2 separate regions of the Homo sapiens genome follow, and region 2 is linked to region 1. The links come from fine-mapping of genetic effects on gene expression. A gene starts in region 1. The other region holds a variant in brackets. All regions are shown on one strand. Distances are from middle to middle.

What was found. PIP is the estimated chance that this variant, and not a neighbour inherited with it, causes the effect.
Region 2: its variant is the best candidate, but not a certain one, in a credible set for the expression of SULT1E1 in lung (TOPMed, PIP 0.59).

What each region holds. Positions count from the first base shown.
Region 1 is chr4:69,857,887-69,862,297 of GRCh38, reverse strand. SULT1E1 (sulfotransferase family 1E member 1) reads left to right here and starts at 2,153. Exons shown (of 8, transcript NM_005420.3): 1 at 2,153-2,249.
Region 2 is chr4:69,748,336-69,752,746 of GRCh38, reverse strand. It overlaps SULT1B1 (sulfotransferase family 1B member 1), which reads left to right. Exons shown (of 8, transcript NM_014465.4): 4 at 2,929-3,026. Among named protein-coding and RNA genes, the nearest start is that of SULT1B1, 10 kb to the left of the region's middle. The variant G/A (reference allele first, on the strand shown) is at 2,649.

The DNA.
Region 1 (4,411 bases):
TTAAAATCTTGCTATTTATAAAAAAGACTCTATAGGACTTTTAATCTTGATCCAGAGAAAGTGTGTGCTACAGAAAAAGCCCAATAGTCACAAAAAAGCCACAGTAATTGTTTTGGGAACTCTGTCACACAGAAGTGCCAGCTTTACACTTGTTTTCAGTGTTTCAGAGTATAACAGCAGTATGTCTGTCTGCATATCTGCCCACATTCTTTTTGTTTGACATTATTATAATACTTAATAAATGTACATATTTTCAAGATATCTGCCCAAATTCTGAGGGTCAAGATAAACATTAAAAACCGGTCCTTATCTGAGATCCATTTTTTTTTTTGACATTGACTCAAACATTTTGTAACTCAGTCTGTACCCATTACTCATGGAGAAGAATGAGGTTTCAGGGCCATCTTGCCTGTTGTTTTGTTTTTATCAGTAAGTGAATTCTTAACATTAGAAAGATTTTCTAAGAATAAATGTGTATTGAACATCTGTGGTTGCCAGAATTACATGAGTTAGGAGCATTTGTGACATCCCTGCAACCAATTGTTTACAAGTGAAAAACAGACAGATGTATTGAGGTTAAATCTGTTTATATTAGCTTGTGCTCATTTTCTGATTTTTTTGGACTAAAAAATGTTTTCGCTAAACAATAAAGGAAACTTCATAGATTCTTGTCATTAAAAAAATAAAGTGAAGCTATGCTGCAAGGTTAAAAATTATATTCTGTATTAAATTTGTATATATATACTTAATTTTTAAAGGTACATAGTAGGCATATGAATGAGTAAATTTGTACATTTAATGATTGTTTTTCAACACATATTTTATTTAACTCAAATAATATGACAGACTGCATAAAACAAAGTAAAATGAAAATCTAAATTTGGGTCCCTGGTTACTCCTTTTCTACCTTAATTTTCTATTATGAAAAGCCCCATTTTTCAGAAACCACTTAACACCTCTTATTTTGCATAAGGCTAGATATTGCTTTCTATAACAACTATAGCCCCCTTAACTTCTTATATTTCTTGAATAAATCAGCCACTTTTATTCAGTAAATACATATTCAATGCCTAGCCTACTAGATGCCAGAAAAAAATGCTAATTACAGAGTAAGACCCTGTTTTCAAGCTATTTATAATTTAAAAAGTACTCTGGACAAGCAAACATTGATTTACAACACAGTAAAATAAATACTAGTTAGGAGAAAGTTCAAAGTTTAAAAGTCACTAAGAGAAACATAGAGTCTTGTAAGAGTGAGCCTCTCAAAGGAAATGTAATCTAACAGTAATTAATAGAGAAATAAGAAATAACAGGGTTGGAGGTGTTGATGGGGTGGAGCAAAGGATAATTTTCTTAAGTGACAGAGTAGGTGCAGAAAAATGAAAAGAAAGGTAATGCATTTGTGGATTCCACAAACCCTTGGCCATTTATTTTTCTAATTCTCTTGTGTAAATTCCAAGTGTTGGTAGCTATCATTACCTGAAAAATTCACAGTATGCTATTTTGTGGTTGGGAGCAGAGAGAAGTCAGGTTTCTAAAATAATAATCGAAAGGTGAGTGATGTTTACATTCTTTCTTTAGCTGTCATCTGCTTTTTAAAATTTTCAGGTCTGCTTAAGAGTTAAAGGCAAAGAGTTTAAATAGGTGTTTTCCAATTGACATGTTAAGATACAACCCAATGACTTCTTTGGCAGGTCTTAATAAACTGAGCTAGGTCTGATTGAGGGTCCTTGCTGTCTTATTTCTTTCCTCATTGGCTTCTCTTTCTTCACTCCAATAAGTTTATTCTTTTGAAAGTTAACCATAGTCATGCTATTATTTGTCAATGAGTGAATAAGGGATTCTCCCTTCCCAGTCTCTCTTCCCAGGCCTCTTCTTTCTCATCTTTTCCTTTTCTCCCTCCTTCTTCCCCAACCCCTGACGGCAGACTTGGGAATTTGAATATGAGCCAAATAATTAAAAAAATAACAGCAGGATATTTCTACATCTCCATGAATGAACATGACTCTGTGTGGTTACTGCAGCTGCAGGTATGCATTTACATCTACATTAACTATTGCATCATGGACTTCATGAAGCCAAGCCCCCAAATTAATCTCCACCTCCTTCTCTGGCATTCAGGATATAAACTCACCAGAAACATTCCAAATGCAGAAGTGGTTCTCATCTTTTTTTGCAGCTTAAGATCTGCCTTGGTATTTGAAGAGATATAAACTAGATCAATTTCTTTCACAGGATCAACTAAACAGGTTGTACTTTTTTATTATTAATATCAATACTTAGATTTTAGATATATAAAATATAGAATGAAAATTATGTATTACAAAGCTCTTAAAAATAAAATATACAAAGACCAAAGTCTTGATTGATACTTTAGTTAATTAATGATGTGAAGCATTTAAAACCTTTTAAAATAATTTGTTGTTAAAAATAATATTTTACATTTATGTAGTATTTTGTTGCTTATTGCTTTAATGTAAAATTACAGTACCATTGCTATCTTAAAAGTGCTGAATGCTGGACGTGTTCTCCATTTTACCAATGAGAAAATAAAGCAAGCAGGGTAGAAGGAGGTAGAATAGAGATTGACTTTTAGTTTTGTGTTCCTGTGATAAGGGGTCTTGCAAATAGGGGCATTACTTTCATGTAAGAAACTTCAGATAAATATGACAGAAATCCAAAGTCCTTGGTAAATAATTAATATGTAGGTCATTGACATATATTGCCTTTTAAATCTGTGAATCCTTACTTAGTAGAAACTAGAGAGCTTCTTGATCTAATAATTGAACTTAACAAATATTTCTGAACATCTACTTTGTGTCATAGTGCTGGAGATTGGGATAGAAACATGTACAAAAGTCACTTTGCCCTCATACAGGTAAATCTAAGAAAGTAGGGACTATGAGAACCCTATGTATCTATATCCACCATAGTATTCTAGCACTGACTACAGGGCCTAGGAAAAGGGTAGGCATTCACATAGGGAGTATTTGCTGGATAAAAGGCAGGTTGGAAGATGCAGGAGGGGAGTATGCAGAAAGAAAGGAAGAAAGAGAGGAAGGAGAGCGGGAAGGAAAAACACTTTCTGAGTTTAATTGAATTTATAAGTCACAATTTTAACAACTTTTTTGATGTTTATTTCTGAACAACTGACCTACATACTCAGAATAAAAAATTGACAATTTCTAACTGAAATAGATCTTTTGAGAAAATGGGGATCACATAGGAAGTAAATCCATACATTGTAATATGAGACAATTTACCAAAAGGAATAGAATGAGAAAAGATATTTTATTACATGCCACCTACTTTGCCTCTCAGACCAAAATTGACTATGAAGGAGTAGCTGGAAGTCAGCCAACCACTTAATGATAAATCTACCACTCCCAGCTGACTATAAGCCAATTCTTATAAACTTGGCTGAACACCAAGAAAGTAATTCACATGAGTAAGCAAACCAATAGGCAGGACAAATCGTGGTGCATTTTATACACATTTCTTCTAGTGAAAGATCTATTTTCTGAGACTAAGGAGAAGGCTTGGGGAACAAGTGATTTATTGATAAGGCTAATATGCATTTTGGAAATAGAAATCTCATATTTTTGGTGACATTACATCTGATATGATGTAGAGGAAGGTTTTTTAAAAGTTGAGATTGTCCTAAGGGCTGGGGCAATTTATGTGTGTAGAAGAACTTATCAGGCAGGTTTTTGGGCAAATGTGAACAGGAGGAAGATCTAGAAAGGCTAATGTCAGGAAAGACAAAATGTGTTGGGAAGCTATGTCAGAAACTTGAAATAAGCTAAGTTTGGCAGTTGAAAAAACAAGATACTAAAGGAATTTGAAAGCTAATGAAAGAAAGTATGCCTAATTAAAAATTCTGTTAGTAACCTTGAACATGAAATAGATTGTCATGGGATCAGGAGATGAATTAGGAAATGATAACCATCTTGCTTAACCTTATCATTTTTAGCCAAGTCATTCAATGGGAGTATCCACTACCTTATTGATCGAATGGGGAAAAAAGTAATTTTAAAGGTCACAGAGGAATCCTTTATACTCTCAAGATTCCATTTCTTTGATATAACCATTACAGTGTAATTAATTTCATCTTTTCTTTTAAATACATTCACCAAGCATTTGGTTTATTTAAAAAAATGATACATATTCAGGAAGTCAAAAATCTCTGACTTAGATACCCGGCAATAATAATCAAATGTAATGATCTTTATTGTTATTTGACATATACATAATTGGATAATTTGCTAAAATAACTGTAATTCTGGACCTCTTTGTCTTTTTATATGCCCCAGCAATTTTGAAAGAAATTGAAGGTTCTGTGGTTTTTATTTATCACGGAATAAATATAATTGAATATATCCACATTTTTATTTAGTTTTAAGCATTTTAC
Region 2 (4,411 bases), 110 kb after region 1:
CCCTCAGCAGGCTGACTGAACTAGTTACTTCCGTAGGCAGAGACGGATCAACTGGCAAGATGTCAGTCCTTCTATGTCATTGCCAGAATTCAGACAGCAAATGCCAATTTTTGTTTTGTTTTGTTTAAAAAATATATTCAATTTTTCAAAGTTACAAATATAAAATCCCAGTTGTTTCCTAAGCCATTAAGTTCAGCTTATAAATATTATTATTTTACTTATATAACAAAAGGAGTTTAATATTCAATCCAAGTTTTATTTAATTAAGCTCCTTTAAACACTTAAGTGGCATTTATATATTAATATATTTCATTTCCTTGAGTACTTAATTTATCTGACCAAGACAAACCTTCCCAAGTACTTATAGTCCAATAAATTAAGCTCATAAATACAGCAAATCTTAGCCATTTTAAATGTTCCAAAACTACATAGAAACTTAGCAATGATTCCACCACTGTACTCCAGCCTGGGCGAAAGAGCAAGACTCTGTCTCTAAACAAATTTAAAAAAGAAAATTAGACACTTAGCAAGATTTCAACTTAAAATTCAAGTATAAATACTCAACATTTTTTACTTAGCATTACAAAGCAAATCTGTTACTCTCACAAAGTTGTTAATCTTACATTTGTCAAGGACTTAAAATGCAAACTGCAAAGTTTCTTAAAACAAATGGTTATGATAAGATGTTCTTAAACATGACTATGTTATGTCTTGATGTTCTTAAACATGCCTATCCTTGGAAAGCTTGGAACTGAGGGATTATGCTGGGGCAAGGAACCAAAATGAGTTCAAGAGGGAGGCAAGACTTCAGAACCATAGAAAGTATGAAATGAAAAAGTGACAGAACCAAAGTAATCAGAGACATGGGAGTCAGGGATAACAGATGGAAGGCAGGATTGGGGATAGAGAGGGAGGATATGCAGCATTGCCTGACAGTGAATGGCTGAAGTTCATCAGGTAGATGAGGGTAAACTGCAGCATTTAAATCTACTCTAGGCCGGGCGCGGTGGCTCACGCCTGTAATCCCAGCACTTTGGGAGGTCGAGGCGGGTGGATCACGAGGTCAGGAGATCGAGACAGTCCTGGCTAACACGGTGAAACCCCGTCTCTACTAAAATATACAAAAAATTAGCCGGGCGTGGTGGCGGGCGCCGGTAGTCTCAACTACTCGGGAGGCTGAGGCAGGAGAATGGCGTGAACCCGGGAGGCAGAGCTTGCAGTGAACTGAGATCGCGCCACTGCACTCCAGCCTGGGCGACAGAGTGAGACTCCGTCTCAAATAAACAAACAAACAAACTCCAGAGCCTGAATGTGGATAATTTTGTTGTCTTTATACATTGCTAACACTCATACTTGTGGATATAAAGGGTTCATTAAAAGACTCACTTGGCAAAATGATTGCAAAATAGGGGAAATTGAGAAATCTTTCAGGGAAGCTGAATGCGGAACAAGGAACAACAGATGTGAGAAAAACTTCTTAAAAGAAACAGACATAAGTTCATCTAATGGACATTAAGTAATAACGAGTTGTGGAGGATTACAATTTCTCATTTTTATATGCTGGGTAAAGTGACTGTAGCTGCTAGATCAGTAGAGGCATAGTAAAATCCCTGATGGAGTTGTATAGTAATTTATGTTTACAGTCATTTATATTGGCAAATAAAATACAGGACAATTAATTAATTTCAAATTCAGATAAATAACCATTTTATTAAGTATGTAAGTACTTTCCAAATGTTGTAAGGGAAATATTCTTGCTAAAAACAACCTATTTATCTGATAATTCAAATTTAACTTGGATTTTCACATTTTTTAATTTCCTGTATGCCAAACCTGTGTCTACTGACATTAAATAGGCTTCTTCATATTAACCATGTGCTAGTCACGGTTCTCGATGGACATTTATTTATGAACAAAACAAGTTACATCTCTGTTCTTATGAAATCTCCATTTTAGTCTAAGTTTAGGAGTGAGGTTGGGGAAGGGACATGGGGACATACAGTAAGCAAACAAATAAGTAAATAAACTATGAAGTCAAAATGTGTTTCATAGAACATTAAGAGAAAAATGTAATAGGCTGAATGACTTCTTAGCATATGCAGTGAATTACTGTGAACATTTAAAACAAAGCATTGTTTTCAATGAGTGAGTCAGATGCAATTTTGTGTGGGTTTGCCTTTCTATTCAGAGATGGCAAGATTATGTAAGATTATCAGGTATTCTAGAGTTTAGACTGTATATAAGTAATACTGTGGAACATAAAAGAATGCATAAGAAGTTTATGTATCATCTATCTTAAGACCTTAATTTGAAATCAAGTTCTACCACATATTTGTTGTATGACTTTAGAGAGTTAAGCTAATATCTAAAGATTACACATTTTTACTGTCTATACATATATGGAGAGACATATGACACATATAGGATATAATGAAAATATAGATAAAACAGCTGATATTATATACAAAGTTAACATCATCTATGCTACAGTACCTAATACAACACGATAGCCAGTTTTAGACTTACTAGTTATTGATACCTCTTTGGCATGAAGAAAACATTTAAATAGTCATTTATAGCAATGCACAGGTATAATAAAACTCCAAATTATTAAAGAGGGTATTATTATCTCTCCTTTTGGAGATGGA[G/A]AAAGTGAAGTACAGAGATTCTGAGATACTTTCAAAGTGTCTCACAATGCTTAAGTGATAGAGTTAGCATTTGAACTCAGGGTGGCTAACCTCAGAATGTGTATCCTTGAATGTTACACAATACTGACTCTAGTAATGTGGTGAAATGCCTGTGATTGTTTCAGAATTTATCTGCATTACATAATGCTCAAAAATGTCTTGAAAAACTGGTTGGCAAAATAAGGAAACGTAGCCTTTCTGGAGACTCTAATATTTCCCTATACTTAACTAAATTTCTCAGGTATAGAACAATTGGAGAAGAATCCATCACCCCGGATTGTGAAAACACATCTACCGACTGATCTTCTTCCTAAATCTTTCTGGGAAAACAATTGCAAGGTATACTCCAGACTCCATGTCAGTTTTTTAGTATGGCCCTATCCCTTTACCCACTCACATAGTTTATTTTTTAAAATATTTTTTGTTTCTTTAACCATATACTTGCAACAATCTATACTATACCCACTCACGTTGTACGTAAATCTTCAAAAGCCATTAAGTTTTAGTCTGAGTTTATATACTCAAGTTTTCCAAACTTGAGCAGCAACAGAATCCAAACCTCAGCACAATATTACTACTTTTTTTTCCAACTCTCCCTAGATCTTCAGGCCTTCTGTAAAAACTGAACTTAAGGACGTTAGTCCTTATTTGAAGATTTGGTATAATTCTTTGTTGTAACATTTGTTCCTGCTTATCTGCTTTTGGGGAAATTTTATACTTCAAATTCTATTTATTTAATAGCTACAGTGCTATGTAGATTATGTGTTTTTTTCTTATCTGACTTTTGACAATTTGTGATGTGTGAGAAACTTTTCTAAGTTGTTGACTTTATGAATGAAAAGTTGTTAATATTATACTCATTATTATTTTAACGGCTGCAGGATTTGTTCTGATACCCTGTTTTGTTCCTGATCTCAGTTATTTGTGCCTTCTCCTTCTTTTTTGTCCCTCTTAAGTATATTAATTTTATTGATATTATTAAAGCTAGTTTTTCGTTTTATCAATTATTTCTGTTGTTTATCTGTTTTTAGTATCATAGATTTCTGCTTTTTTTCTCTATCGTTTCTCTCCATCTACTTACTTTGGATTTATTTTACTCTTCTTTTTCTAATCTCTTTAAGTAGGAACTGATATTATTGATTTGTTTCTTTCCTATTTTCTAAAATAAGCCTTTAGTGTTGTAAATATGTTTCCTCAGTAAAGCTTTAGTTGCATCCCACACATTTTGATATGTCATGCTTTCAATTGCACTCAATGCTATGCACATTTTTATTTTATCTGAAATTTCCTCATTTACTGCAAGATTTTGAAGTGTATGATTTAACTTCTAAGTGTTTGAGGATTTTTATGTTTTCATTCTGTTATTGATTTCTAATTTTATTCCGTTTTAGTCAAAGATCATACTCTACATAATTGCAATTCTTTTAAATTTCTTATGGTTCATCTTGTTCTATCTTGTTAAATGTTTTCTGAGCTCTTGAGCAGGTTGCATATTCTTCTTTGTAGGTGGATGTATTCCCTATATTTTTATTACATCCTCTTGACCAATAATGTTGTTCAGTTCTTTTATATCCTTTCTTGTTTTATGTCTAGCAGTTCTATCAATTGCCTGACAGTGGATTGTAAACATGCTCAACTATGACTAATGATGTGTCTATTCTTACTTCAGCTTTACTGGTTTTCATTTCATGTATTTTGAAGTTCTGCTGTTTGCTGTTTGGAAT